Linked DNA regions of Homo sapiens: region 1 is linked to region 2. Evidence: fine-mapped expression QTL. A gene starts in region 2. The other region holds a variant in brackets. All regions are shown on one strand. Distances are from middle to middle. Region 1 overlaps POLR1B (RNA polymerase I subunit B). Region 2 holds the start of POLR1B (RNA polymerase I subunit B).

Evidence for each region.
Region 1: its variant is fine-mapped to the expression of POLR1B in whole blood (TOPMed, PIP 0.93).

The regions. Positions count from the first base shown.
Region 1 is chr2:112,562,222-112,576,689 of GRCh38, forward strand. It overlaps POLR1B (RNA polymerase I subunit B), which reads left to right. Exons shown (of 15, transcript NM_019014.6): 10 at 2,145-2,278; 11 at 5,746-5,916; 12 at 6,525-6,681; 13 at 10,341-10,537; 14 at 11,341-11,594; 15 at 12,626-14,468. The coding sequence ends at 13,508. Among named protein-coding and RNA genes, the nearest start is that of CHCHD5, 15 kb to the right of the region's middle. The variant C/T (reference allele first, on the strand shown) is at 9,829.
Region 2 is chr2:112,533,582-112,550,692 of GRCh38, forward strand. POLR1B (RNA polymerase I subunit B) reads left to right here and starts at 8,884. Exons shown (of 15, transcript NM_019014.6): 1 at 8,884-9,090; 2 at 13,431-13,598; 3 at 13,840-13,986; 4 at 15,686-15,818. The coding sequence starts at 8,914. It overlaps TTL (tubulin tyrosine ligase), which reads left to right. Exons shown (of 7, transcript NM_153712.5): 7 at 1-8,158. LOC105373562 (a long non-coding RNA gene) reads right to left here and starts at 8,631. Exons shown (of 2, transcript NR_136321.1): 1 at 8,622-8,631; 2 at 8,075-8,497. RefSeq lists an enhancer at 8,767-8,916.

The DNA.
Region 1 (14,468 bases), 27 kb after region 2:
GATAATGTAGCAAGTAGGCAAATGTGCACATAATGAGGATTAACTGTAATTACATTTTGGGGGTTAATGCATTTAATGCATTTAGGTGGCTTAGAAATAAAAATATTAAGACATACAGTGAAATGCTCCCTCCCATAGGCCCCTGTCCCCTTGCTACTTCTTTCCTGTGTGTCCTTGCTGAAGCAATTTAAACTTCCACAAGCAATACAAAAGCCTTCAGGCTTACCCCGGAGATATTGCAGGTTTGGTTCCAGAGCGCTGCAATAAAGTGAGCCACATGAATTTCTCGGTTTCCCACAGTGCATATGAAAGTTATGTTTACACTATGCTGTAAATATTTCAATTTTAAGAATACTTTATTGCTAAAAAATATTAAATCATCTGACCCTTCAGTAAGTTGTAATCTTTTTGCTGGTGGAAGGTCTTGCCTCAGTGTTGCTGGCTGCTGACTGATCTGGGCGGTGGTTGCTGAAGGTTAGGATGGCTTGTGACAATTTCTTTTTTTTCTTTTTTTTTTTTTTTTTGCGACGGAGTTTCGCTCTTGCCCAGGCTGGAGTGCAGTGGCGCGATCTCGGCTCACCGCAACCTCCACCTCCCAGGTTCAAGTGATTCTCCTGCCTCAGCCTTGCGAGTAGCCGGGACCACAGGCATGCACCATCATGCCCGGATAATTTTTTTTGTATTTTTAGTAGCGACGGGGTTTTTCCATGTTGGTCAGGTTGGTGTCGAACTCTCGACCTCAGGTGATCTGCCTGCCTCGGCCTCCCAAAGTGCTGGGATTACAGGTGTGAGTGACTGCACCCGGCCAGCTTGTGACAATTTCTTTCTTTTTTTTTTTTCTTTTTTTTTTTGAAATGGAGTCTTGCTCTGTCACCCAGGCTGGAGTGCAGTGGCGTGATCTCGGCTCACTGTAAGCTCTGCCTCCCGGGTTCACGCCATTCTCCTGCCTCAGCCTCCCGAGTAGCTGGGACTACAGGCGCCCGCCACCACGCCCGGCTAATTTTTTTGTATTTTTTATAGAGACGGGGTTTCACCGTGTTAGCCAGGATGGTCTCGATCTCCTGACCTCGTGATCTGCCCGCCTCTGCCTCCCAAAGTGCTGGGATTACAGGCGTGAGCCACCACGCCTGGCCTGTGACAATTTCTTAAAATAAAACAAGTTTGCGACACCAATTGCATCTTCCTTTCACAAAAGATTTCTCTGTAGCATGTGATGCTGTTTGATAGCATTTTACCCACAGAGGAGATTATTTCCAAGTTGCAGTCAGTCCCCTCAAACCCTGCCGCTGTTTTATCAACTAAGTTTATGAAATAATCTAAATCCTTTATTGTCATTTCAACAATGTTTACAGCATCTTCTCATTTCTTGAGATCCCATCTCAAGAAACCATTTCTGCTGGGCACAGTGGCTTAGGCCTGTAATTCCAGCACTTTGGGAGGCCAAGGCGAGAGGATTGCTTGAGCCCAGGAGTTCGAGACCAGCCTAGGCAACACAGGGAGACCCTGTCTCTACAAAAAAAAAATTTAAAAATTAGCCAAGCATGATGGCACGCACCTGTCAGCTACTCGGGAGGCTGAGGTGGGAGGACTGCTTGAATCTGGGAGGTTGAGGTTGCAGTGAGCCATGATCATGCCACTGCACTGCAGCCTGAGCGACAGAGCAAGACCCTGTCTCAAAAATAAAACAAACCCATTTTTTTTGCTCATCCTCTAAGAAGCAATTCCTCATCCATTCAGTCTGATTATGGGATTGCAGCAATTCACTCATAGCTTCAGGCTCTACTTCTAATTCTAGTGGTCTTGCTATTTCTACCACATCTACAAGTCCAGTAGTAACATCAGAGATCACTAATCACAGATCACCATAACAGATATAATAATAATAATATTTGAAATATTGCAAGAATTACCAAAATGCCAGCACAGAGACACAAAGGGAACACTTGTCGTTGGAAAAATGGCATTGATAAGCCTGCTTGAAATATCTGAAGTGCAGTTAAAAGAAATAATGCCTGTACCTGTTTTAGAGACAAGGATAATTTGATATCTGAACTGATACAGCAGCTGTTGACCCCATCTGGAGGGAATCTGGAATGTTGGATGAAGCATTCTGATGTGATTGTGCTGTTTGTTTCCTTTACCAGGGGTCACTCCCATTGATGGAGCTCCCCACCGATCATACAGTGAGTGCTACCCTGTCCTGCTGGACGGTGTCATGGTTGGCTGGGTGGATAAGGATCTTGCTCCAGGCATCGCAGATTCTCTTCGTCATTTTAAGGTGGGCTTGAGGCTTTGTGAATTGTCCTATCCCTTGACCTTAGGTTTTTCAGTTCCTTTCTAGTTTTGGGGTTAACCCCTGGGCGGTCTAGAGTGATCAAGTGGTCAGGGGGTCACAATGTCCAGAATGCCTGTGCATTCCCTCTGGTGACAGAGGCTTGCCTTATACTGGCCTCATTGGTTGGGGTCAGTGACAGATATTTGACCCATATACATTCTTTGGCAGTTTCATTGAGGCACCTCAGTCTGCTTATCTAACTAATTTTAACTTTTTTCCCCCTTCTTAATACTAGTGGCATAGAAGGGATCTCAAAATACAGATATTTCAGTAATATTCAAAATATGCAAGGTAGAAGTTATACCCCATTGCCTCCTAGGTTTTGAAAATATATTTTTAAAAAGTAGAATGACATTCTTTGAATAACTTACCTTTGGGATTTCCTCCTAGTGAAGAGTATTTGTTGCTTTGATAATGGCCATTGAAAGAATTATCCTTTGGCAACAGGCTGTTTGTGGTTTATATTCTGTTCTGTGTTTTTATTTTTAAAAAATGTTTAAACTAAATTTTAGTTTTCGTTTAAGTGCTGTTTCGGACACTTGGGTTGTTTCTACCTTTTGGTCATTGCAAATAATGCTGCTATGAACATGAGTGTACAAATATCTATTTAAGTCCTTGTGCTTTTAATTCTTTAATTCTTATATTCCTATAAGTGGAATTGTGGCTCATTTGATATAATTTTACACTTAGAGCAAAGATGTTTAATCAGTACATGGGACCCCCCTGTATACACATTACCCAAATCCACCAGTTGCTATGCTTTGCCCTACATCCTTTATCTTCTGTATACTCAATTTTTTTCTTTTGAACCATTTGAGAGCAGTATTGAGACATTGTCTCATTTTCCATAAAGATTTTAGTGTACTTTTTCTAAGAACAAGGACTTTCTCTTCAATAACCACAGTACATTTATGAAAATCAGAGAAGGTCATGTGGGTGGGATCCATAGTTGATACTCAGATTCCACCAGCTGTCTCAGTAATGCTCTCTTTTTTTTCTTTTCTTTTCTTTTTTTTTTTAGAGAGACGGGTCTCACTCTGTTGCCCAGGCTGGGGTGCAGTGGCACAATCACAGCTCACTGCAGCCTTAGTGTCCCAGGCTTAAGTGATCCTCCCACCTCAGCTTGCCAAGCAGCCTGACCACAGGACTGTACCACTGTGCCCGGCTACCCTGACCCAGTCCTTTGGGTTGTTATGGAGGCTTTATTACATAGGATGACTGATGGAATCATTGGCCACTGGGGATTAGCTTAACCTCCAGCCCCTATCCCCTTCCTGGAGGTTGAGGGTGGGGGTGAAAGTCCCAATCCTCTAATCCTGGCTTGGTCTTTCTGGTGACCAGCCCCATCCTGAAGCCACCTAGATGCTGCCAACCACCAGTCTTTTATTTTTATTTTTTTGAGTCAGAGTCTTGTGCCTCAGCCTCCTGAGTAGCTGAGACTACAGGTGTGTACCACCACGCCCGGCTAATTTTTTTTATTTTTAGTAGAGGTGGGGTTTCACCATTTGGGTCAGTCTGGTCTCCTGACCTTAACTGATCCACCCGCCTTGGCCTCCCGAAGTGCTGGGAATCACAGCTCTCCTGTAATTTAGGTTTATGTTTTGCTTCCTCATGATGAGATTCAAGATATTTCAGGAAGCACATGACGTTGGTTTGTCCTGTTACGACTCATGTTAACTGATCCCTTCAAAGTTGTGTTCTTTAGGTTAATTCACTGTACAGTTTCTGTTTTTCTCTGTAATAAGTAACTTGTGGAGAGATAGTTGAAAGCTATGTGGAGCCCTCTTTCTTCATATTTTCACCCACTAGTTGATGGATTATTAGCTGAATTACTATTCCATTGGTGGTTCTTTGCTGAGTTAATATTACTGTGATGGTTACCACATGGTGTTTTCCCCCACCAGCATTTTTTCTATGTTTATTAGTTGCTATTCTGTAAGGGAGGGCTTTCTTTTCTATTAGTTGTTCATTTATTTATGTTAGCGTAGATTTATAGATGCTTGTTTAATTTTGTGAATATTCTGTTACTACTTATTTTGATGCTCAGAAAGTGTATGAGATTTGATCTAGTGTACAGTTGAGGGTTTTAAGTACATTCATGTTGTGGAGTCATCACCATCTTCAGAACTTTCTCATCATCACAAATTGAAACTCTGTAACCATTAAACAATCATTCCTCTTTTTTTTTTTTTTTGAGGCAGAGTCTCGCTCTGTCGCCCAGGCTGCAGTGCAGTGGTGTGATCTTGGCTCACTGCAGCCTCCGCCTCCCATGTTCAAGCAATTCTCCTGCCTCGGTCTCCCAAGTAGCTGGGATTACAGGTGCACACCACCATGCCTGGGTAATTTTTATATTTTTAGTAGAGATGGGGTTTCTCCATGTTGCCCCGGCTGGTCTCGAACTCCTGACCTCAAATGAGCTACCTGCCTCATTAGTCTCAGATTTTATCTTTTTTATAGAGAATTTATTTTCATTCTCTTTTTTTTGGTTAGCATTGTGGAGCATCGGAGGATGAGGACACTTAAGATCTGCTCTCTTAGTAAATTTCAAGCATGCAATATAGTATTCTTAACTATAGTCACATGCTGTACATGAGATCTCCAGAAACTTAATTTTGTTGCATAACTGAAGCTTTATACTCTTTGACCAACATCTCCCCGTGTCCCCCTCCACCAAACATTCTCTCATTTTTAATGATAATGCATCTAGCTGTGAATCCCCATGAGTTCTGACACATGGGTTTGTTGTTGTTGTTGTTGTTGTTGTTGTTTTCAGGTTTCTGTAATTTAGGTTTTTATTTCTCCTTTCACCCAGGAGTTTGTTGGAGTTTTTTTGTTTTGTTTTTGAGACAGGGTCACTCTGTCACCCAGGCTGGAGTGCAGTGGCATGATCATGGCTCACTGCAGCCTCAACCTCCTGGGCTCAAGTGATCCTCCCACCTCAGCCTCCCGATTAGCTGGGACTACAGGCACGTACCACCACACTCAGGTAATTTTTTAATTTTTGTAGAGACGGGGTTTCATCATGTTGCCCAGGCTGGTCTTGAACCTCTGGGCTCAAGTGATCCACCCACTTTGGCCTCCTAAAGTGCTGGGATTACAGGTATAAGCCACCCCCGGCCCACCCATGAGTTTTTGGTTTATTAAATTTACAAATAAAACCAGTAATCTACTGTATTTTAGATCACAGAGGACAGAATTTCCTTTAGTGTATCGACACGTGCATTCATGGTGTGCTTTATCCTTAGCCTCAGTAGTTAGTGATTTGCCTACTAGCTGGGGTGAGCACCCAAGGAAGTAGGGCTTTTACCATGGCTGAGTGTGGATGAGTGGTATTCCATGGGGCATAAGACTGGCAGCGACAGCCATGGCCTTGGGACAGGTTTGTTAAACTCTGTTTTTGTTAAAAACAGGTGTTGAGAGAGAAAAGAATTCCTCCCTGGATGGAAGTGGTCCTTATACCCATGACAGGAAAACCAAGTCTGTACCCAGGATTGTTCCTTTTTACCACTCCTTGTAGACTGGTACGGCCTGTGCAGAACTTAGCATTGGGCAAAGAAGAGCTAATTGGAACTATGGAACAGGTAAATACATATGTGTGATGGATGAGTGTATGTGCTTGTTTGTATAGTATACAACTTTCAGAGACTTAACTCTTCCTTTTTTAAAAGGGTTGTTAATGTTACAACAACAGTTGGACATTTGAAAGAAAGTCAGACTTTCCACCTCCTCTATGATCAGCACAGAGCAATTTCCATGTCTGATCTCACTCCACAGAACCTGAGAGAGGGCTGGTGGTCACATTACCTGCCTCCCATCTTATCTAGCTCCCAGAACTCCTTTGTACCTGGCTCTGCCTCAGCCGTGAAGTGAAAACATTCCATTAGATTCACACTCAGTCTTTGCCTACATATTTACAGTTGCAAAATTATAGGCTTTGTGCTACTTAAAAATTTTTCTTCCTATTCCCCTTCACAATTGGTCTGGGGTAGTTTTAGAGTGAGATACGTAAAGCAAGTGGTATTTCTAACTGGTCGCTTCCCTGTGCTTCCCAGTTGATCCCTTCAGCACTCATGATGCTGGGTGGGGATGGTTTTCTCTTGAGTCTTTGAGTACTGAACTCTGAGAAATGGTAAGAGTAAATGTGTAACCAGTTGCAGTTATTTTGTGCCTTGGACATCTGCTCTTCCAGATCTTCATGAATGTCGCTATCTTTGAGGATGAAGTTTTTGCTGGAGTTACCACACACCAGGAACTCTTTCCACACAGCCTGCTGAGTGTGATTGCCAACTTCATCCCTTTCTCTGATCACAACCAGAGTCCACGGAACATGTACCAATGCCAGATGGGTAAGGAAGAGGGATGATGTTACAGTCACAATCAGGAAAGTAAACTTGATACTAGCACACTCTTTTATTGTCCTTATTTACATATGCTGACCATTTGTTCCAAAAATACAGTTTATGGCAAGTTTTTCTTTTTTCTGTGCCACAAGCAACCAGCCCAGGATCACTCATTGTATTTAGTTGGCATGTCTATTTAGTTTCCTGTAATTTATGACAGATCTTTAAACATTCTTTGTCTTTGACATTGACATTTTTGAAGAAAAAGGTATAGAATGTCCATAGATTTGGGTGTGCCTGAGGTCTTATTATTTGATTTTTTGAAGAATACAAGCAATTATAGTCACCCGCATATTTATCACTTCCAGTCCTCTTCATTCCTGCTGCAAGATTCAAGTTTTCATTGTATACAATTTTCCTTCAGCCTGATAATCTTCCTTTAGCATTTTTTTATAGTGCAGGTTGCTGGCCACAAATTCTCTTTGTTTTCATTTATCTGAAAATGTCTTTATTTTGCTTCACTTGAAGGAATCTTTCACTGGATATACAATTCTGAGTTGACAGTTATTTTTCTTCCAACACTTAAAAGTTGTTGTTACACTGTCTCTTCTTAGTCTCTGTCATTTCTAGTTAGAAGGCAGCAGTCTTCTGAATATAGTGTGTTTCTTTTTTTTTTTTTTTGAGACAGAGTCTCGCTCTGTCGCCTAGGCTGGAGTGCAGTGGTGTGATCTCGGCTTACTGCAACCTCTGTCTCCTGGGTTCAAGTGATTCTCCTGCTTCAGCCTTCCAAGTAGCTGGGTCTACAGGGACTCACCACCACACCCAGCTAATTTTTGTATTTTTAGTAGAGACGGGGTTTCACCATGTTGGCAAGGCTGGTCTCGAACTCCTGACCTCAGGTGACCTGCCCACTTTGGCCTCCCAAAGTGCTGTATTACAGGCGTGAGCCACTGCGCCCGGCCTCAAATTTTGTTTTTTTTCAGTTTAATTAAATTGCTAAACTCTTCTGTCATTATTTTTAAAAACATTGCTCCTATCCTTTTCTCTCTTTCCTCCTCTTCTATCAGTTATTCATATATTTAAACCTTTTGATATTGTTCCATAAGACATTGAGTTTCTGTTCTCTTTTTTCTTTATTTTCTTCAGATTGGATCTTTTTTTTTTTTTCCCGAGATGGAGTCTCACTTTGTTGCCCAGACTGGAGTGCAGTGGTACAATCTCGGCTCACTGCAACCTCTGCCTCCCATGTTCAATAAATTCTCCTGCCTCAGCCTCCTGAGGAGCTGGGATTACAGGCACACACCACCATGCCCAGCTAATTTTTGTGTTTTAGTAGAGATACGGTTTCACCATGTTGGCCTGGCTGGTCTCAAACTCCTGACCTGAAGTGATCTGCCTGCCTCAGCCTCCCAAAATGCTGGGGTTACAGGTGTGAGCCACTGCACCTGGCCCAGATTGGATTATTTTTATTGACCTATTATCACAGTCACTTTTTATTCTGTCTTCTACTGAATTTTTGCTTACAGTCATGTGCCCTTAACGACAGGGATACCTTCGAAGAAGTGAGTCATATGTGATTTTGTCGTAGTGTGAACATCATAGAGTGAACTTACACAAACCTAGATGGCAGAGACTACTACACACCTAGTATATGGTATAGCCTGTTGCTCCTAGGCTACAAACCTGGGTGGCATGTAACTGTACTGTGTACTGTCTACAGTTGTAAGACAATGGCAAGGATTTGTGTAGCTAAACATAGAAAAGGTACAGTAAAAATATGGGATCACCATAGTATATATGCCATCCTGCATTGACTAAAACATTGTTATGCAGTGCATGCCTGTATTTTTCAAGTCCAGCACTTCTACTTGTTTCTTTTTTTTTTCTTTTTTTTTTTTTTGAGACAGGGTATCGCTCTGTCACCCAGGCTGGAGTGCAGTGGCACGATCTTGGCTCACTGCAACCTCTGCCTCCCCAGTTCAAGCAATTTTCCTGCCTCTACCTCCTGAGTAGCTGAGATTACAGGCATGTGCCACCATGCCCAGCTAATTTTTTGTATTTTTAGTAGAGGCAGGGTTTTATCATGTTGGCCAGGCTGGTCTCAAACTCCTGACCTCAAATGATCTGCCTGCCTCAGCCTCCCAAAGTGCTGGGATTACAGGCATGAGCCATTGCGCCTGGCCTGACTTGTTTCTTTTTTTATAGTTTCTTTCTTCTCTAAGATTTCTTATCTTCATTCATTGTGGGCATGTTTTCCTTTATATTTTGAACATAGTTTTATATGATGGGTGTTGTAAAATCATTATCTGCAGATTCCAATGTCTGGGTCATCTTAGTATCAGTCTCTTTGAGTATAAGTCAAGTTTCACCATTTCTTTGTATGCCCAGTAATATCGGATTGTATTATGAACATTGCGAGGAGTATGTTTTAAACCCTGGATCCTGTTAGGGTCCTCTGAAGAGGATTGGTTTTGTTTGTTTTTAGTGTGGTGTTTGGCCTTCAATTACATTTTAATTTTTTTCATTTTATGTCTTTCCTTCTTAATACACAGTCCATCACCTGGTTCAGTGCATGTCACCAAAAATTCTCCAGGGGAAGAGGATTGGTTTTTAGTTTTCACTGGTACTTAACTTGGTGAACGTGGCAGTTGAAGTACATTCTTCAGCCTTAGGTGGGCTGCTGTGATCTGTCCCATGCATGCATAGTTCAGGAGTCCACCAAAGATTCGGACCCAATTTATATGCTGAATTTAAGGGTCTCCCTTTGTGGTTCTCTCATTTCTGAAATGTTCCCCCTTCCCAATTGTTGTCATGCTCAGAACTCTATTTCTTGGTTCTTCAAGCCAGTAAGATTGTGGGTTTCTATCTAAGTTGTAGCTGCCACACTGGGCCATAAGGCAAAAATAAATACATAAATACTTAAAAACCTGGAAATTCACCCAGTGTGTTCCTTTTGTCCAAGTAAAAATTCTTCTCAGCTTCTGACAGCTTTTGGTTACTCTCCAGTGCTGTATGTGTAGTTGGGGGTCTGCGTCTCATACTTATGTGTTGAGGGTGGTCTAGTAAGAGTAGCCCTTTATTACTGGAAGCTCTAAGTCTATAATTTTTTTAAAAATTTCACTTGTATGTATTTATATTTTAAAATCATTTTGT[C/T]GTGAAATGATTCTCTGTACTGTGAGGTAGTACACAGAGGAATCTCACCCCATGCTCCACTACTTAGAATTAAATACATATTCCGCTGTAAGAAAGTAATCTAATTACGTAATAATTCCTATCCCCTTTTCTTCCCCGAGTAGTGATAGCCTGTAATTTGCGTACTTCCTTTCTGTCCCCTTCTAAAGCTTTTATTACATCATACATGTATCCATAAACTAAGTATAGAATTGTTTGGGGTGTGTTGCAAATACACATAAATCGTATCATATTAAATGTCAGTCTGCACTTTCTCCCACTCAGCATGGTTTTCCTGGTCTGGTCACGTTGATACATTTAGGTTTACTTCATTTTCACAGCTTATGTATTAGTCTAAAGTAAGCATAACTACCATGACTATTTATTTGTTCATTTTCCTCTGATGGATATTTAGTTGTTTCCAGTGTTGCGTATCACACCTATAATCAAGATGAAAGCAGCAGAAAATGCTAAGATGTTTTTTCTCCATGTAGGTAAGCAAACTATGGGCTTTCCACTTCTCACTTATCAAGACCGATCGGATAACAAACTGTATCGTCTTCAGACTCCTCAGAGTCCCTTGGTGAGACCCTCCATGTATGATTATTATGACATGGATAACTATCCAATTGGGACCAATGCCATCGTTGCTGTGATTTCTTACACTGGCTATGATATGGAAGATGCCATGGTAAGTTTTACCAGGAAATGTTGTTCCAATCTTTTTATTTTTTAACTTGTTTGTTTACTGTGAAATCACTGAAGGAATATTTTTGTGTACCCAAGTACCTAGTATTTGGCACGTGATGTTCTATTAAATGATTAGTTCTTAGTCTAAGTTGAAAGTGGGCAAGCCTTGAGGAATATCCACTAAATATTCAGATACACGTATGTCTTGCATATTTGAGTGCATATTATGAGTAAATTTTGAAGTTTGGTTTTGGATCTATCTACCTTTTATATTTAAGTATGATTAGATTTTAAGCTATTTCTGTGTGCCTGGGTTTTTGTTTTTCTTGTTTTTTGTTTGTTTGTTTTTTGTTTTTTATTTTTGAGACGGAGTCTCGCTCTGTTGCCCAGGCTGGAGTGCAGTGGCACGATCTTGGCTCACTGCAACCTCCACCTTCTGGGTTCAAGCAGTTCTCCTGCCTCAGCCTCTCGAATAGCTGGGACTACAGGCACCCATCACCATGCCTGGCTAATTTTCGTGTTTTTAGTAGAGATGGGGTTTCACCATGTTGGCCAGGCTGGTCTCGAACTCCTGACCTCAAGTGATCCACCTGCCTTGGCCTCCCAAAGTGCTGGAATTACAGGCGTGAGCCACCGTGCCCAGCCATGTCTGGGTTTTTGTAGTTAGTATCAGTGATTTGGAAAATGTGAGGAAAGTTAAAATGTGATGCCAGTTATCCTAAACCAAGTATGATAGTCCCACCTAGTTTTATTTTGAAAATCCTCAATTGGCCTCAGTCTTTTAACGATTCTTTTACTTCACAGATTGTGAATAAGGCCTCTTGGGAACGAGGCTTTGCCCATGGAAGTGTCTACAAGTCTGAGTTCATAGACCTCTCTGAAAAAATTAAACAAGGAGATAGTAGCCTGGTGTTTGGCATCAAACCTGGTGACCCACGCGTTCTGCAGAAGTTAGATGACGATGGATTGCCGTTTATAGGAGCAAAACTGCAGTACGGAGATCCGTATTACAGCTACCTCAACCTCAACACCGGGGAAAGTTTTGTGATGTACTATAAGTAAGTTTGGGTATCCAAGCTGTTTTGTTTTTGTTTTTGTTTTTGTTTTGAGACAGGGTCTCAGTGTGTCAGCCGGGCTGGAGTGCAGTGGAGTGATCTCAGCTCACTACAACCACCACCTCCCGGGCTCAAGCAATCCTCTCGCCTCAGCCTTTGAGTAGCTGGGACTCCAGGCATGGACCACCATGCCCAGCTAATTTTTTGTATTTTTAGTATAGACGGTTTCACCATGTTGCCCAGGTAGGTCTCGAACTCCTGGGCTCAAGTGATCCACCTGCTTCAGCCTCCCAAAGTGCTAGGATTACAGGCCTGAGCCACCATCCCTGGCCTATTTGTGCTTTTTTTAAAAACTGTATTATCCAAACTTTGTCATCTTTCTCACATACAATGTTAGCAATGTTTCCTAGCCAAAATGTTGAGCTCATACCTCTTATTAGAAATGTCTTATTTTAGCTTATTTTACAATATAATTTATTTCAATAGGCTTTCATAATAATTTTTCAGTTGCTTTTGTTGCTAGTTTTCTTTCAGATGAACATAATTCTGTAGTGAATATCACCAATAGCTCTATTCATACCATCTCTGTTTGTATTGGAGAATAAAGGTAAGAATGAGTTTTGCAGGCCAGGCACAGTAGTTCACACCTGCAATCCCAACACTTTGGGAGACCAAAACAGGAGGATTCCTTAAGCACAGGAGTTCATGATCAGTCTGGGCAATGTAGTGGGGCCCTATCTCTACAAAAAAAATTTAAAGACTAGCCAGGCCTAGTGGCATATACCTGTAGTCCCAGCTACTCAGGAGGCTGAGGTGGGAGGATTGCTTGAACCCGGAAAGTCAAGGCTGCAGTGAGCTGTAATTGCACCACCGCACTCCAGCCTGGGCAACAGAGTGAGACCCTGTATCATAAAAAAAAAAAAAAAAAAAAAAGTTTTACAAATATCCTTTATGAAGCACTAATTATATCAATGAAACTTATCTCCATAAGTTAAAACAAATAGGTTGACCTTATATGGTTTACTTTTTCCTAGGAGTAAAGAAAATTGTGTTGTGGATAACATCAAAGTGTGCAGTAATGACACTGGGAGTGGAAAATTCAAGTGTGTTTGCATCACTATGAGAGTGCCTCGGAACCCAACTATCGGAGATAAATTTGCCAGTCGCCATGGGCAGAAGGGCATTTTAAGCAGATTGTGGCCGGCTGAGGACATGCCTTTTACTGAGAGTGGGATGGTCCCAGACATTCTGTTCAATCCCCATGGTTTTCCATCCCGCATGACCATTGGGATGTTAATTGAGAGTATGGCCGGGAAGTCTGCAGCTTTGCATGGTCTCTGCCATGATGCTACACCCTTCATCTTCTCAGAGGAGAACTCGGCCTTAGAATACTTTGGTGAGATGTTAAAGGCTGCTGGCTACAATTTCTATGGCACCGAGAGGTTATATAGTGGCATCAGTGGGCTAGAACTGGAAGCAGACATCTTCATAGGAGTGGTTTATTATCAGCGCTTACGCCATATGGTCTCAGACAAATTTCAAGTAAGGACAACTGGAGCCCGAGACAGAGTCACCAACCAGCCTATTGGGGGAAGAAATGTCCAGGGTGGAATCCGTTTTGGGGAGATGGAACGGGATGCGCTTTTAGCTCATGGTACATCTTTTCTCCTTCATGACCGCCTCTTCAACTGCTCAGATCGGTCGGTAGCCCATGTGTGTGTGAAGTGTGGCAGTTTACTCTCTCCACTGTTGGAGAAGCCACCCCCTTCTTGGTCTGCCATGCGCAACAGAAAATACAACTGTACTCTGTGTAGTCGCAGTGACACTATCGATACTGTTTCTGTGCCTTATGTTTTTCGGTATTTTGTAGCTGAACTGGCAGCTATGAACATCAAAGTGAAACTGGATGTTGTTTAACTTGATGTTGACCTTTTGGATTAAGAGGACTATCAGATTAAAGCAAAATGTAATTTTAATTCAATGAAGATATCATTACCAGGTTACTCTTGAGATTTTTCAACGGTGTTAGAACTCTCAACCAAGACCTGAAAACCAAGTATGCAAGGTTTCTGAATCTCTCTGGTAGATTAACTATTGACAATGATTTTCTGTTATCTTTGTTCAAAAAGTTCATGTCTTCTCAAAATATGAAATATTGATAAATGGAAGAGCATACGGTGACAAGTCTCCTTTCCAACCCCAGGTTCCCTACACCCTGCTCTCAGCAGGCAGTGAGTGTCACACACCTGTTAATCCATCTTGAGCAGGACAGTACTATACAAATAGAATGCAAGCTGTAATGTAATTTTATATTTTCTTATAGCCACGTTGAAGTAAAAACAAACAGGTACAGTGTTTTTTACCAGCTTTATAGAAGTACAGTTGTTACATATTTAATGAATACAATTTGATGGGTCTGACTATATGCACACACCTTTGATACCATCACCACAATCAGGGTAATAAACATACCTGTCATCTCCACAAGTTTCCTCCTGCCCCTTTGTTTTTTGCTTTTTGGTTGCTGTTGAGTTTTTGTTTTGTCTTCTGTGGTAAGAACACTTAACTCAAGACCTACCCTCTTAACAAATCTTTAAGTGCACGATATAGTATTGTTAATTCCAGGCACCATGTTGTACAACAGATCTTTAGACCTTACTTGTCTTGCATAACTGAAGCTTTATACCTGTTGAACAACTCTCCATTTCCCTGGCCCCTAGCAACCACCCTTCTACCCTGTTTCTATGAGTTTGACTATTACAGATATCTCATATAGTGGGATCATGCAATATTTGTCCTGTGACTGGCTTATTTCACTTAGCATAGTGAAATAAGATTCATCCATTTTGGAAGCCAGGCATGGTGCTGTGCATCTAT
Region 2 (17,111 bases):
AGGGCCTTCTTGCTGCCTCAGCATGGCAGAAGGCATCACATGGCAAGAGAGGAATGGAGTCTAACTCACCCTTTAACTAGCAACCCATTCCTGTGATAACTAACCCACTCCTGGCATAACATCATTAATTTATTCATGAGGGTAGAGCTCTCGTGACCTAACCTCTTACAGGTCCCACCTCTCAACACTATTGCAGTAGAGATTAAGTTTCCAACACATTTACTTTGGGGAACACATTCAAACCATAGCAGTCCCTGAAGGCAAAGGAAAATGAACCCCTCTCCAATGCAATACATAGTAGCAGAACTTGAAGATTGTTGCAAGCATAATTCCTTTCAAAAATTATGAGAGGACATCAGTGGGCATAATAGAGTAACAACCTCTGAAAACCCTCTCTTCCATAAAAGCAATGAGAACACTAGCAAAACTGTCTAGACATTAACCAGAGGCTTGCAGCAATCCATTTATTCAAGAAAAGGCCTGTAATCCCAGCACTTCGGGAGGCCAAGGCGGGCGATCACGAGGTCAGGAGATGGAGACCATCCTGGCTAACACAGTGAAACCCCATCTCTACTAAAAATACAAAAAATTAGCCGGGCGCGGTGGCAGGTGCCTGTAGTCCCAGCTACTTGGGAGGCTGAGGCAGGAGAATGGCGTGAACCTAGGAGGCAGAGCTTGCAGTGAGCCGAGATCACGCCACTGCACTCCATCCAGCCTGGGTGACAGTGCGAGACTCTGTCTCAAAAAAAAAAAAAAAAAAAAAAGGAAAGGGTTGCATCTGGGTAAGAAAAGCAAGCTTTCTGACATTTTAATGTACCCTATTCCCACTCCCCCTTTCCCCAGCTCCACAACAGCCTCGGCCACACAATCATGCTGACATCCAGCAGCAGAGCAGCCACCGTAGGGCTCAGAAGGGGATTGGAACTCCTCCAAAGCTTCATTACCAGAGAATTGCCATTTGGCCTTTTTGGTAGTTCCATGTAAGTCCCTACTCCTAGGTCTTGTCTTTATTTGATGTGACTAAGAGGTTACCCAGTGTGAACAACCTTTTCCCTGGGTGCATTTGTCAAAAAAAATCAACAGCAATTGTTGAACATCTCAGCTTCCTAAGGTGGCTGTAACAGTTGGAACAAACAAACTGACCAAAAGACTTAGAAGGAAAAACTGGGAATGAGATTTCTATAGGACGTTTTGAAAAGCTTCAACCTATTCCTAAGAATGCAGAAGGCCACACACATGTGTAGGACTGTGCACATGCCCAGAAGAGACCTGAGAATTCCCCAGCTCTTTCGTCTGACCTTAAGTGTCTGCACAAACAGAGAGGACAGAGGCAGAAGGAGGGAAAGAGGGAGGGAGGAAAGGTAGGAAGGGGAGAAAGAGAGAGGAAGAAAGAGAAAGGAAAGAAAGGCAGGCAGAAAGAAGGAGAAAGGGAGGGAGGGAGGGAAAGGAGGGAGGGAAGAAAAGAGAAAGATTGAGAAAGAAAAAAGAGAAAGAAGAAAGAAAAGAAAAAAGGAAAGAAAGTTAGTTTATAAAATAGAACCAAGTAGAAATTTTAGAGTTGCAAAGTACAAAAATGCAAATGAAAGATTTACTTGAGAAGTTTAAAAAATGTGTGAACTGGTAAAAGAAGTAATCAGCAAATTAGAAGTCATTTGAGATTATCCAGTCTGTGGAACAGAAAAAAAAAATCAGCAAAGAAAAATGATCAGTGCTTCAGACACCCGTCAGACACCATCAAACATACCAACATACACATAATAGGAGTCCTAGAATAGATAAGTGAGAGAGAGGGAAGGGGATAAAACATATACTGGAAGAAATAGTGGCCAAAACCTTTCCCACTTTGAGGAAAAACATTAAAGTGAATCCAAGAAGCTCAACAAATTCTAAGCAGGAAAGACTCAAAGAGTCCACCTCAAGACACACCAGCCACTAAGTAAATAATTTTAAATATATAGTAAAAAATGACAAGGAAACAGAAATGTTACACTAGAAAATATATAAGAAAAGAGAAGGAAGTAATGAAAAATAGAGGAGAAAAAAAAGGCAAGAGGCCTAAAGAAACCAACAGTAAAATGGTAGATAAATCCTGCCTTATCAGTAATTTCATTAAATGCAAATGAATTAAATACTCCAATCAGAAGGTAGAGATTGGCAAATTGATTTTTTTTAAAAATCATGATCCAACTATATGCTATCTACAAAAAACACACTTCATTTTATTTTTATTTTTATTATTTAGAGACAGAGTCTTGCTCTGTTGCCTAGGTTGGAGTCTAGTGGTGTAATGATAGCTCACTGCAGCCTCAAACTTCTGGTTTCAAGTAATCTTCCCACCTTAGCCACCCAAGTAGCTGGAACTATAGGTGCCTGCCACCATACTTGGCTAATTTAAAACAATTTTTTTAGAGATAGGACCTGGCTTACTTCAAAACTTACCTGGCTAATTTCACTTCACATAACGATCTTCAGTTCCATCCATGTTGTTGGAAGTGACAGGATCTCACTCTTTATGGCTGAACAGTACTCCATTGTGTATAAGCAATATATTTTCTTTATCCATTCATCTGCTGATGGACACTTAGGTCGCTTCCAAATCTTGGCTATTGCAAACAAGGCTGCAGTAAACATGGGAGTGCAGATATCTCTCCAAAAAAAATTTTTTTTTTTTTAGAGATAGGGTCGTACTGTGTTTCCCAAGCTGGTCTTGAACTCCCGTCCTCAGGCAATCCTCCTGCCTCAGTCTCCCCTAAGCAGCTGGGATTACAGGCATCAGCCAATGCACCTGGCAAAACACACTTTAGATTCAAAAACACAAACAGGTTGAAAGTAAAATGATGGAAAAAGATATACCATGCAAACAGTAACTCAAAGAGAAGTGGAGTAGCTATACTAATGTTAGACAACATAAACTTTAAGAAAAAAATTGTTTCTATAGACAAAGAAGGACTTTTTTTTAATAGTTCCAACTTTTATTTTAAATTCTGGAGGTACATACACAGGTTTGTTACATGGGTCCTGAGGTTGGGGTACAGATCCCATTACCCAAGTAGTAAGCATAGTACCTAATGGTTAGCTTTCCAATCCTTGCACCCCTCCCTCCCTTCTCCCTCTTGTCATCTTTAGTGTCTCTTGTTGCCATTTTTGTGTCCATGTGTATCTAATGTTTGGCTCCCACTTATGAGACTGTGCAATATTTGGTTTTCTGTTCCTGTGTTATTTCACTTAGGATAATGGCCTCCAGCAGCATCCATGTTACTGCAAAGGACATGATTTCATTCTTTTTTATGGCTGCATAGTATTCCATGGTATATATGTACTATATTTTCTTTATCCAATCCACTGTTGATGGGCACCTAGGTTGATTCCATGTCTTTGCTCTTGTGAATAGCACTGTGATAAACATATAGGTGCATGTGTCTTTCTGGTAGAATGAATTGTTTTCTTTTGGATATATACCCAGTAATGGGAGGCTATGTTGAATGGTAGCTCTGTTTTTGTTTGTTTGTTTGTTTGTTTGGTGGAGTCTCTCTCTGTCACCCAGGCTGGAGTGCAGTGGTGTGATCTGTGCTCACTGCAACCTCCGCCTCCTGGGTTTAAGCGATTCTCCTGCCTCAGCCTCCCAAGTAGCTGGGACTACAGGCGTGTGCCGCCATGCCCAGCTAATTTCTGTATTTTTAGCAGAGACAGGGTTTCACCATGTTGGCTAGGCTGGTCTTGAACTCCTGACCTCAGGTGATCGACCTGCCTCAGCCTCCCAAAGTGCTGGGATTACAGGCATGAGCCACCATGCCCAGCTGCTCTGTTTTAAATTCTTTGAGAAATCTCCAAACTTCTTTCCACAGTGGTTCAACCAATTTACATTCCTGCCAGCAGTGTATAAGCATTCTCTTTTTTTCCTTAGCCTCTTCAGCATCTGTTATTTTTTGACTTTTTAATATAGCTATTCTGACTGGCGTGAGATGATATCTTATTGTGGTTGTGATTTCCATTTCTCTGTTGATTAGTGATGATGAACATTGTCTCATATGTTTCTTGGCCACTTGTATGCCAAGGACATTTTATATTGATAAAAGGGTCAGTCCATTAGGAAAATATGACAATTATAAACATATGTACCTAGCAATACAGCCTAAAGATACATGACATAAAAACTTAGAGAATTGAAGGAAGAAACAGACAATTTAACTACAATAGTTGGAACCCTCAAAACTCCATTTCAATAATAGCTAGAGCAACTAGGCAGAAGATCAACAAGAAAATAGAAAACACTATAAACCAACTAGACTTGACAAATATCTACAAGGCACTCCACCCAACAGCAGCAAAATACACATCCTTCTCAAGTGCACATGGAACATTCTCTGGGGTAGATCACATGCTAGGCCATAAAACAAGTCTCAGTAAATTTAAAAGAATTGAAATTATACTACATATGTTCTCTGACCATGTTGGAATAAAATCAGAAATCAGTAACAAATTTTGTTAATTTCTGTATTAATGAAGAAATATACAAGTAAAGAGGTTGGACTAATAATAATTCTTTTAAAACTTCCCACAGGGAAAAGCCCAGGACCAGATTGTAAGCCAGATGGTAAGGAATTAACACCAATATTTCATAGAGTCTCCTAAAAAATAGAAGAGAAGAAAATACTCCTCAATTGAGAAGAGTGTCCTCAACTTTATGAGGTCACTCTTAATACCCTGATACCAAAACCAGACAAAGATGTCACAAGAAAAGCAAATAGCAGACCAATAATCTCTTGGGAATACAAACGGAAAAAATCTTCAACAAAATACTAGTAAACCAAATCCAGCAACATAGAAAAAGGATTATACATTATGACTAAGTGGGACTTATCCTAAGATTACAAAGTTTGGAATAACTCATGTTCTCTTGTAAGTGGAAGCTAGGCTGAGCACGGTGGCTCACTCCTATAATCTCAGCACTTTTAGGAGGCCAAGGTGGGCAGATCAAATGAGGCCAGGAGTTTGAGTCCAGCCTGGGCAACATGATTAAATCTGGTCTCTATAAAAAATACAAGAATTAGCCAGGCATGGTGGTGCATGCCTGTAATCCCAGCTACTCTGATGGCTGAGGCACAAGAATCGCTTGAACCTGAGAAGAGGAGGTTGCAGTGAGCAGAGATCGCACAACTGCTCTCTGTCCTAGGTGACAGAGCAAGTCCTGTCTCAAAAAAATTAAAAAGTGGGAGCTAAACATTGGGTACACATGGACATAAAGTTGGGAAGAGGCCAGTCGCGGTGGCTCACGCCTGTCATCCCAGCACTTTGGGAGGCCAAGGCGGGCGGATCATGAGGTCCGGAGATCAAGACCATCCTGGCTAATATGGTGAAACCCCGTCTCCACTAAAAATACAAAAAATTAGCCGGGCGTGGTAGCAGGCGCCTGTAATCCCAGCTACTCAGGAGGCTGAAGCAGGGGAATCACTTGAACCTGGAAGGCGGAGGTTGCAGTGAGCCGAGATTGCGCCACTGCACTCCAGCCTGGGTGACAGAGACTCTGTCTAAAAAAAAAAAAAAAAAAAAAAAAGATGGGAACAGCAGACACTGGGGACTACTAGAGCCAGGAGAGAAGGAGGGGAGCAAAGATTGAAAACTACCTATTGGATACTGTGCTCGCTACCTGGGTGACAGGTTCAACCATACCCCAGACCTCAGCATCACCCAATATACCTTTGTAACAAATTCGCACATGTACCCCCCTGATTCTAAAATAAACGTTGAGAAGGGGAAAAGAAAGAATGCAAGGTTTTTTTAACATACAAAATTTACTTAATATAATATACCACTTTAATAGAAAAAAGAGGACAAAAAGCACATGATCATTTCAATATACACTGAAAAAGCATTTGGCAATACACAACACTCTTTCTTGGAAAAAACCTTTCAACAAACTAGAAATAAATTACTTCCTCAACATGATAAAGAGCATCTTTGGAAAAACCCACAGCCTACATCATATTAATGGTGATGTGAAAGCTCCAGTTGGGAGCTTTCTTCCCAATATCAGGCACAAAACAAGTATATTTATTCTTGTCACTTCAACATTGTATTAAATGTTCTAGACAGAGCAATTCGACAAAAGGAAGGAAAGAAGACTGCGCATTCAGATTGGAAAGGGAGAAGTATGATGATCTCTCTTTGCAGACGACAAGATACCATATAGAAAAAGTCCTAAGAAATCCACTTACGCTGTTAGAACTAATAAAGAGTTTAGCAAGATTGCCAGACACAAGATCAATATACAAAACTCAATGGTATTTCTACATATTACAAACAATTTGAAGTTAAGAAAACAATTCCATTTATATCAACACCAAAAAGAATGAAATACTTAGGAATAAATTTAACAAAAGTTCATTTCTACACCAAATACTACAAAACATCTCTGAAAGAAATTAAAGAACACCTAAATAAATGGAAAGACATCCCATGTTTATGGATTGGGAGATAATTATTGTTAGGATGAAAATAGGCCCCAAATTGATCTACCAATTGAACACAATCCTGATCAAGAATCTCAGCCTTCTTTGCAGAAATTGACAAGCTGGGCCGGGTGTGGTGGCTCACACCTGTAATCCCAGCACTTTGGGCGGCCAAGGCAGATGGATTACTTGAGGTCAGGAATTCAAGACCAGCTTGGCCAACATGGTAAAACCCTGTCTCTATTAAAAATACAAAATTAGCCAGGCATGGTGGTGCATGCCTGTAATCTCAGCTATTTGGGAGGCTGAGGCAGGAGGTAGAGGTTGCAGTGAGCCAAGATCATGCCACTGCACTCCATCCTCAGCAACAAGAGCAAAACTCTGTCTCAAAAAAACAAAAAACAAAAAAAAAAAAAAAAGAGAAAGAAATTGACAAGCTAAGCTGACGCTAAAATCCATATTGAAATACAAAGGATCAAATAAATCTGGAGAAAGAAGAACAAAGTTGGAGGATGTGCACTTCCTGATTTCAAAATTTATTACAAAGCTGTATTAATCAAATCTGTGTAGTTTGTAGACAGATATACAGATAAATGTAGATAGACATACAGATCAAGAGAATAGAACTGAGAGTCAAAAATAAACCCTTGCATCTATAGTGAACTGATTTTCGACAAGGAGGCCAAGACAATTTGATGAGGGAAAGAATAGTCTTTTTAACAAATGGTGTTAGGACAACTGGATATCCACATGCAAAGGAATAAAGTGATATGCCTTTCTCACACCATATACAAAAATTAGCTCAGAATGAGTCAAAGACTTAAATGTAAGAGTTGAAACTACAAAACTCTTAGTAGAAAATATAGGTGAAAATCCCCATGATTGAAAAATATCTAGTATTTGATAGCACAACAGGGTGACTGCAGTCAGCAATAATTTGTTGTACCTTCAAAAATAACTGAGGAAGTACAATTGGAATGTTCATGACAGAAATGATGAATGCTTGAGGTGATGGAAACCCCATCTACCCTCCTGTGATGATTACATCGTATGCCTATATGAAAACATCTCATATACCTCATAAATATGCTAATTATGTACCCATAAATTTTTTTTTAAATCCTCATGACCTTGGATTACACAATGATGTCTTAGATATGATATAAAAAGACAGGCAACAAAAGAAAAAAACTACACTTCAAAATTAAAACGTTTTGCTTCAAAGGACACCAGCAAGAAAGTAAAAACCCACAGAATGGGAGAAAAATATTTGCAAATCATGGATCTGACAAGGACTAGTATAGGCTATATAAAGAACTACAACTACTCAGTTGGCCGGGCGCGCGCGGTGGCTCATGCCTGTAATCCCAGCATTTAGGGAGGCAAGGCGAGAGGATCACTAGAGGCCGGAAGTTCAAGACCAGCCTGTGCAACAGACTCCCGGCTCGAATTTTTTATAAAAAGTGATATAGGAATGAAAAGTACCAGCTGAACTAGGAAAGGGGAAGTTGACAGTAAGGAGGGACTATCAGGGGCAGGAGGATACTGGGTAGTGGTGGTTTAATTCATTGTTTTAATTGTGGTGATGGCTGCATGGTTGTATACATAGGTCAAAACTTAACGCGTACACTTTAAATGTGTGGTTTATTGTATGCCAGTTATAACGCAATATAGCTGTTAAACACAAACACAATAAAGTTGAAAAACCAGCAGGCATTCCCTGATTAATCAGTATTCTGGGGAGGTAAGGGGCTCACAGGAACGCAAAAGAAATTCAGGCTGTAAATCCAGTTGGACGCCCCGCTGCCCCATCCCCTCCATCCGGGACCGCCCGACTCCTCTCCCACCTCCTTCCCCAGGCCTCCCCCAGGCCTCCAGTCCGGAAGATGCGACGAGGTTAGCGGGGCCCGACCACTCCTTGGCTTCCCAGGGGTGAGCCTCGCGAGTTAGGAGTTGGGTAGAGAGTCAGCCCGGGGCCCGGCATCCGCTTTTTCGTTGAAGCAACGACTTTGGCCGGATGACTCCCCAGGGTCGGCATCAGCGTGGGACTGGGAACAGGTGAAGGGAAACAGAAGAGAGCCTGAGAAGACCGCTCTCCTCCGATCCTAATTGACTGAGCCAATGAGAGCCAAAGAGGTCACATGCTCAACTGGGCGGGGAGCGGGTTTCCACCTGCGGCATCTTTCGCGAGCGGGGAGATGAGTGGGGCGGAATATGGGAGAAAGGGAGGGCCCGCCACGCTCTGGCTGGACACGGCCTTAATCGGCCCGTTCACTCGACGTTTTTGGTTCTACGTTGACCCCGAGAAACCGAAACCGCAGGGCCTAGGGCGGGTGGAACGAGAGGGAACTACATTTCCCAGCAGGCTGCGGAAACGGGACTGCGGCCACTACTTCCGGCGTGTACCGAGAGACTGGCGTCCGGCGTGTACCGAGAGACTGGCGTCCGGTGTGCAGGTGGCCACATGGATCCTGGCAGCCGGTGGCGGAACCTGCCCAGCGGGCCTAGCCTAAAGCACTTGACTGACCCCTCTTATGGAATCCCGCGGGAACAGCAAAAGGCAGCGTTGCAGGAGCTGACGCGGGCGCACGTGGAGTCCTTCAACTACGCTGTGCACGAGGGTCTCGGCCTCGCGGTGCAGGTGAGCGCGGCGTCCGCCGGCGCCCTTGCCGCGGCGAGGCCAATCCCAGGGAGGTGGCTGGGAGGTCACAGTATGACCCCAGATGCATGTGCTCCTTGATCCTGACAGGCTTGGTGGGTAAGCGGGAGAGCACAACATGTTAAACAGGACGCGGTACTGGCCTTCGTGAGACTTGGAGTCGAGGCGTCTTAAGAGATGTATTCGTGATTCTGGAGTGAAAAGTGATTGTGAACCGTAGTTTGGACAGTTTCGGGGTGCTGTGAGAGTGAGGAAGTGGCTTATCTGGGGATGTGCTTCACAATGCACACGGCTTTATATCACTTGAAGACTTACCTCTCCAAAACGTACCTCGAAAGATCCCGAACGTATTTGTAGGTACAGTGTAATGTTCAAGGTTATCCTTCAGTTTCCTTCTCTTAGAGCTTTAAAGAGAGAAACTACTCGTCATTTGTTATGAATTAAGCAGGTGCCGAGGAAGGTATAAATGAGTCATGAAAGCAAGATTGAATCGAAAAGTGTAATTGCATTATTAGCGTAGAGTAATGGTAGCAGAATTCAAGTGAGTATGGTGGGGGAAAGCTTCGTTTAGTAAGCATCCCCAGTGTCTCCAGGCACTAGGCTCAGAGGATGTGGAGGAGGCAGTCCCGTGTACGAGACAGTTCATGCATTTAAGTGCTCCCTGTCGTGTTTGGGGGTTGAAGGGGTGAAGATAATGAAAGCAGTGCATGCCAATGTTCTTGAGAACTGCTCTGCCAAGGGATTGTGTGGGCTACTGCGGGAGCCTATGGGCGGCGCAACTAATCCAGGAGTTTGAGAAAGGGCAGGATTAGATGAGTTCAAGAAGTGAGAAACGTGCATTTCGTCCAGGGGAAGAGTAGAGCAGAGTCACATGCTTCGGGGACCCTACCTGTGGTTTTGTTGGGTAAGATTTGTGTTGTGGGAGATAGGGATACAGATAATGTGGAGAGCTTTGATTGCCAGTCTGATTCTTGAACTCTATTCGGCAAATAATATGGGAGCCATTAAGATTTATTGTTTAGAAAGACTAGAGGGGTGGGGGTTATTTGTATTGTGCCTGGATTGTTACAGTATCATGTCTGTGAGAAAAAATTCCTAATTAAAAGTTAATCGGGCTGGGTGCAGTGGCTCACACCTGTAATCCAGGACTTTGGGAGGCCAAGGCAGAAGGATGACTTGAGCCCAGGATTTCAAGACCAGCTTGGATAACATAGTGAAACCCCATCTCCACAAAAATTTAAAAATTAGTGGGGCATGGTGGTGCGCACCCAAGTAGCTGGTCCCAGCTACTCGGGAGGCTGAGGTGGGAGGATAAGTTGAACCCAGGAATTTGAGGCTGCAATGAGCTATGATTGTGCCGCTGCACTCCATCCTCGGTAACAGAGTGAGACCTGTCTTTAAAAAAAAAAAATCCAATTGAGAAATTTTAGAAAAGCACTAATTTAAAAATAAGCCAGTCGGCTGGGTGTGGTGGCTCTTGACTGTAATCCCTGCACTTTGGGAGGTCAAGGCGGGTGGATCACTTGAGGTCAGGAGTTCCAGACCAGCCTGGCCAACCTGGTGAAACCCCATCTCTACTAAAAAATACAAAAATTAGCCGGGCATGGTGGCACATGTCTGTAATCCCAGCTACTCAGGAGGCTGAGGCACGAGAATCGCTTGAACCTGGGAGGCGGAGGTTGCAGTGAGCCAAGATTGCACCACTGCATTCCAGCCTGGGTGACAGAGTGAGACTCTCCCAAAAAAATAAATACATAAATAAATAAACCAATTATATGTTAACATTTTTAAGAAAAATATTTTCCAAAGCAAAAAAGAAGTTAGATGAATTGCATTATTAAAAATCTTTTTAATGTCTGGCTTAATGAAAAGACAGCTGGATTCTCATGTCTGCTTGTGCATTCAGTCCCTTGTGATAATTGTTTTGGTTGAAGTAGATGAAGAAAATTTGGCCCTGCATAGAAAATGATGCCACAACTTAGCTAGGACTATAATAATATAGTATTTGAAAAAGTTCTGTAAAACACAGTAACATAAATAACTAATACTTATAAAGCCAAGGGAAAAAATAGTTATCATATTTTTTACTTACAAAACATAATTTTGCCAAGTTTCTTTGGAGTGAATTCCTCCTTTCTGTGAGTCAGAATTTATGTGTCTGTCTTTTCAAAATACAATTGATTTTTATTACTTGGGGATTCCATATTTGCAAATTCACCTACTCACTAAAATTTACTTCTACTCCAAAAGCACCATGCCCAGAAGCAGCAAAAAAGTTGAGTTGCTCAGTGTCCATTTTCCCAGCTGAGATCTAACAAGGTGATGCTCGGCCTTCTTGTTTTAAGTTCTTAAACTATAAACAGAGGTTGTCTTCACTATCTATTTAGTGCCGTGTTTTGTGCTTTTTGTTGGTGATTTTGCTGTTTAAAATGTCCCCCAAGCAAAGTATTAAAGTATTAAAGTTCTGTATAAAGTTCCTAAGCACAAGAAGGCTGTGCTGTGCCTTTAGGGGAAAATATTAATACATGCATTTAACATAGGCTTTGTTCAGGCATGCGTTAGGGACTCAATAATATATATTAGATAAGCTGTCCTTAAACAGAAACCCACATAATGCAAGGTTGTGTATTGATCAGTGGATGAAATCATAGGCTTTGTTCAGGCATGAGTTACGGACTCAATAATATGTATTAAATAAGCTGTCCTTAAACAGAAACACACATAATACAAGATTGTGTGTTGATCAGTTGATGAAATGTGACCAGAGGCTCGCAGGAAGCTAACCATGTATTTACCCTAGGAGCAGTGGTTCAGTATTGGCTAATTCAGTGTTTATGGCAACTGTATAGAACATAACTATTATGAATAATGACAGTTCACTGTATTTCCTTCTAAATAGTGCAGCTGCGTCTTGAGAAAGCAAATTGTCTAATCTCTCTTTTTTTAACTTCATTCTGTTTTTTTTTTTGAGACAGGATCTCACTTTGTCACCTAGGCTGGAATGCAGTGGCATGGTTATAGCTCACTGCAGCCTCGACCTTCCAGGATCAAGTGATCCTCCCACGTCAACCTCTTGAGTAGCTGGGACCACAGGCGTGCACCACTATGCCCGGCTAATTTTTTTATTTTTATTTTTTGTAGAGACGGGGTCTCCCTATGTGGCCCAGCCTGGTCTCAAACTCCTGAGCTCAAGTAGTCCTCCTCTCTCGGTCTCCCAAATATTGGGATTACAGGTATAAGCCACTGCATCTGGCTTTTATTTTTAAATAAAATATGAATTTCTAAAATAATACCAGCTTTAGATAACATTTTAAAATTTAGAAAAGGTAAGTTAACTCACGTGAAGGTGGAGAACCTCCTTGGTATTCTTTCTTGGTTCCATTTTTTCATTTTCATTATTCTAAGACTAAGTCTAGGAGGTTGCTTGTAATTAATATATAGGAGAGCTTGGTGATGCCCCTTCCTCAGAACAGCAAAGCTTCCCCTACAGAATGGTACAAAGAAGTAACTTCTGTGGAAGGGGAAACCCAGCCTGGCCACCATCTTTTCCTTTGCATGGCTCTGGCTTCAGTTTGACGTTGCCATTGTACATTAAGCATCTAGTCTTAAATCCTAAAGGATGTTTCCGTATCCTTGCTCTATTAGCAGTAGTCCCATTTGTCTTGCTATGCACATAGACAAGTTAAGAATACACAAGGCTCTTGGTTCAGAGAACAGGAATTTTGTTCTGTTCACAGCTGTATCCCTAGAGCCTACTACAGTCTCTGACACATGTGGTCACTCAAAACAATCTTGTACTAATAATGCTTTGTGGTTTTAAGTATTTAGTGAAGTTATGAGTAGACTGGAGGTAGCTTTTTTTTTTTTTTTTTTTTTTTTTTTTTTTTTTTGAGACGGAGTCTCGCTCTGTCGCCCAGGCTGGAGTGCAGTGGCGTGATCTCTGCTCACTGCAGGCTCTGCCTCCCGGGTTCACGCCATTCTCCTGCCTCAGCCTCCCGAGTAGCTGGGACTACAGGCGCCCACCACCACGCCTGGCTAATTTTTTTTGTATTTTTAGTAGAGATGGGGTTTCACCGTGTTAGCCAGGATGGTCTCGATCTCCTGACCTTGTGATCCTCCCACCTCGGCCTCCCAAAGTGCTGAGATTACAGGCGTGAACCACTGCGCCCGGCCAACTGGAGGTAGCCTTAACTGTCCTTTTTAGGTGTGTCATGGTGGCATCACAGGCATCAATGTTTGTAGAACACATAAGATTTGGAAGAGTCTTAGAGAAAAAATGCCTTGGAAATGCAAGCAATTTAATAGTGTGAATTGCATTTCAGGCTATACCTCCCTTTGAATTTGCTTTCAAAGATGAGCGTATCTCTTTTACTATTCTGGATGCTGTTATCAGTCCACCTACAGTTCCAAAAGGGACCATCTGCAAAGAGGCCAATGTTTATCCAGCAGAATGCCGGGGCCGAAGGAGTACCTACCGTGGGAAGTTGACAGTGAGTACTAGTGATACTGTGTGACTCTCAACACTGCACATATTTGGGAGTAGGGCGGGTGCCTAATAAAGTTTATGCCAGAAATTGCTTTCTTGGTGCTATTGTCTAAGAGATCCCACCTTCTAAATCTAAGGCATAAAATAATTTAATTGATCTTCTTCCTCAGTCTTTGAAAATACTCATTTGTTCTCGTAAATGCAGATATTTCTGTTAAGTAACTTTTTCTCTTGTTTTCATTTAGGCTGATATCAACTGGGCAGTGAATGGAATCTCAAAAGGAATCATTAAGCAGTTTCTTGGCTATGTTCCCATCATGGTGAAATCCAAGCTTTGCAACTTACGTAACCTTCCCCCACAAGCCCTCATTGAGCACCATGAGGAGGCAGAGGTAATGACGGGCGTCCAGGCATGAGACAGTAGAGAAGGCCTGGGTTGGGAGTAAGAAGACAAGAAGTGTGTCAGTGTTTTCTTTCTGTGCTCCAATTTCTGGATAGGTGAAAGAGATATCAGTATCTTGCCTGCATACAGTGTATGGCTCTGAATAACTATCAAATTAGACAGTATGAAAAAGTGGCTGTAAAATTAGAGAATATTATTGTTCGGGGGGAAGAACTGGTAGGTTTTTCCCTAATTTTCTGAATGATAGAGACATACTTCCACAAAATTTGTTTTTTTTTTCAAGCTGTCTTAATCCACAAAGCTATTGTCAAAAATGTCTATTTATCTGGGCATGGTGGTGGCATGGATCTGTAGTCCCAGCTAACTGGGAGGCTGAGGCGGGAGCATCAGTTGAGCCCAGGAGGCCTCACTACAGTGAGCCATGATTGTGCCACTGCACTCCAGCCCGGGAGACAGAGTGAGACCCCGTCACTAAAAAAGTGAAATAAAAATGTCTGCTTTGCTAACAGTAAGATTCTGTGCGCATATTAAATGACTTATATGCATTCCCTTCATCATTTCTTTCAGCTATATTAGGTGGCTTTGCAGAGTTGAGTTGAGGTAATCAAGATGAACAAACAGTGCCTACTAAATAGGTAGATGGTGTTATGTGGTGGGAAGAGGGTTTTGGTGTCAGATCTGGGTTTGACACACAGCTCTTCCGCTTATCAGTCTTGTGGTTTGGGGAAGTTAATCTCCCTGAGCCTCAGTTTCCTCTGCTGCAAGTGGGTATAATAGCTACCCCACTCATTGTTATGAGAATTAAATGTTATGATAACATAGAGCACCTACTATAATATGCCTGTTTCATAGTAGGCAATTCGTAAATAGTAGCTGTTTATTACAGAAATGTGATATTGAGCAGAGCTATTAAAAATATTTTTCTATTTAGCTAATCCAAATTTCTGGTTTCCAGAGCTTTCATACAATCAAGTTTTTGAACGTATTTGGGAAACCATACTCGTATGGAAGCAAAATGGTTACAGTTTTTATCTTTCTTTTTTTTTTTTTTTGAGACGGAGTCTCCCTCTCTCACCCAGGTTGGAGCGCAGTGGCGCAATCTTGGCTCACTGCAAGCTCCGCCTCCTGGGTTCAAGCCATTCTCCTGCCTCAGCCTCCCGAGTAGCTGGGACTACAGGCGCCCACTACCACGCCTGGCTAATTTTTTGTATTTTTAGTAGAGACGGGGTTTCACCGTGTTAGCCAGGATGGTCTTGATCTCCTGACCTTGTGATGCTCCTGTCTCGGCCTCCCAAAGTGCTGTGATTACAGGCGTGAGCCACCGCGCCCGGCCCAGTTTTTATCTTTCAACACCTCTTTGGAGTAAGTTTTTTTTAGTGTTATTTGAAGACTGAAGTCATTTTAGGGGACAGAAAGGCAAGATAGGTTGAGCCTGTCTGATAAAGAGAAGTACCCTGTTTTTCTTCCATACTTTTTTCCCATGTCCCTAGGACCTTTGTAATATACTTGAGAAAACTGTTAATTCACACAAAGACAGTGTCTGTGTACTGTTTTCAAGGGATCAGTAGTACATTTCACCTCTGTGTTCCTATTCTGTGTGTTGTACTACCTTTGGCTAGGAGTGAGGTTCATGTTTACAGTTAGTCATGTATCTTTGTTTAACAAGTTGCAATTCATCTTTTTGGCAGGAAATGGGGGGCTATTTTATAATCAATGGCATTGAAAAAGTCATCCGAATGTTGATTATGCCTCGGAGAAATTTTCCCATTGCAATGATAAGACCAAAATGGAAAACCAGAGGGCCTGGTTATACTCAGTATGGTAAGTTCTGGAGATTATTAGAATATTTTTTAAGGAAAATTTAAAACTTTTTTTTTTTTTGAAGTAGATGCATCCAAATGGTCTTTGATATTTTTGTTTCTTTTTTTTTTTTTTTTTGGTAGGGATGGGGTTTCACCACGTTGCCCAGGCTGATCTCGAACTCTTGGGCTCAAGCAGTCCTTCTGCCTCAGCCTCCCAAAGTGCTGAGATTACATGCATGAGCCACCGTGTCTGGTCTTTCTTTTGTTTTTTGTTGTTTTTCTATTGAGCATTCTTGTGTTAAGTTTTCATAATTGGGATGGAAGAAGAAATGGAGAGATGTTAGTCAGAGGATACAGACTTGCAGTTACAAGATGAATAAGTTCTGGGGATCTGATGTACAGCCTGGTGATGATAGTAATACTGTACTGCTTAAAATTGATGAGTACATTTTAAGTGTCTCAACCACACACGCGTGCACACGTACTACAAATGATAACTATGGTGATTGATGTTTTCATCAGTTTGATTGTGGAAATCATTATAATATATGTATATGTATATTCAAGGTATTGTACACCTTGAATATATATGATTTTTATCAATCATAAGCATTTTAAAATTCACTTTTGCTAACTGAAAGAGCATGTGTATTTTTGTTACTACTTATGAAGATGAAAGCTAGTCTGGCTTGGCCATAAGTGGGTGTGGGTCTTGGCTGTCTTCTGGTTCAGGCTGCTGCACTTTTGCAAACTGAAAGAGCATGTGTATTTTTGTTACTACTTATGAAGATGGAAGCTAGTCTGGCTTGGCCATAGGTGAATGTGGGCCTTGGATGTCTTCTGGTTCAGGCCACTGTGGTACACCCCTCAGGGTCTCTGTCTGACAGCCACCTGGCCTCTGTTGGAACATTCTCTTTGACAATGCCTAAGACAGCATGTTGTATTCTTGAGCAACCCTGACAGTTAAACAATTTGTCCTGATAGTTGAGCTAAAAATCAGACCTTAATTATAGCCATACATACTATACCTAGAAAAACAGCATGCCTGAATGTCTAGTGATTTTCTTTTGCATCAGTTGATGGTAGTATGTCTTAGCAGTCTTTGCCTGAAACTGAAATAAAATCTAAAATTCTACTTTTCTCCATTGGAACTATTAGATCAAGCACCATGTCTTGACCAGACTCCACAGTTTAAGGCAGATATAAAGTGCTAAAAGATGTGGACTCTGTCCTGGAGGGAAACTTTGAAGTTTGCTTAAATTCATAGTTTCGGTTATTTTACATTAGTGTTTCTCAATCTGGGTAGATTTTG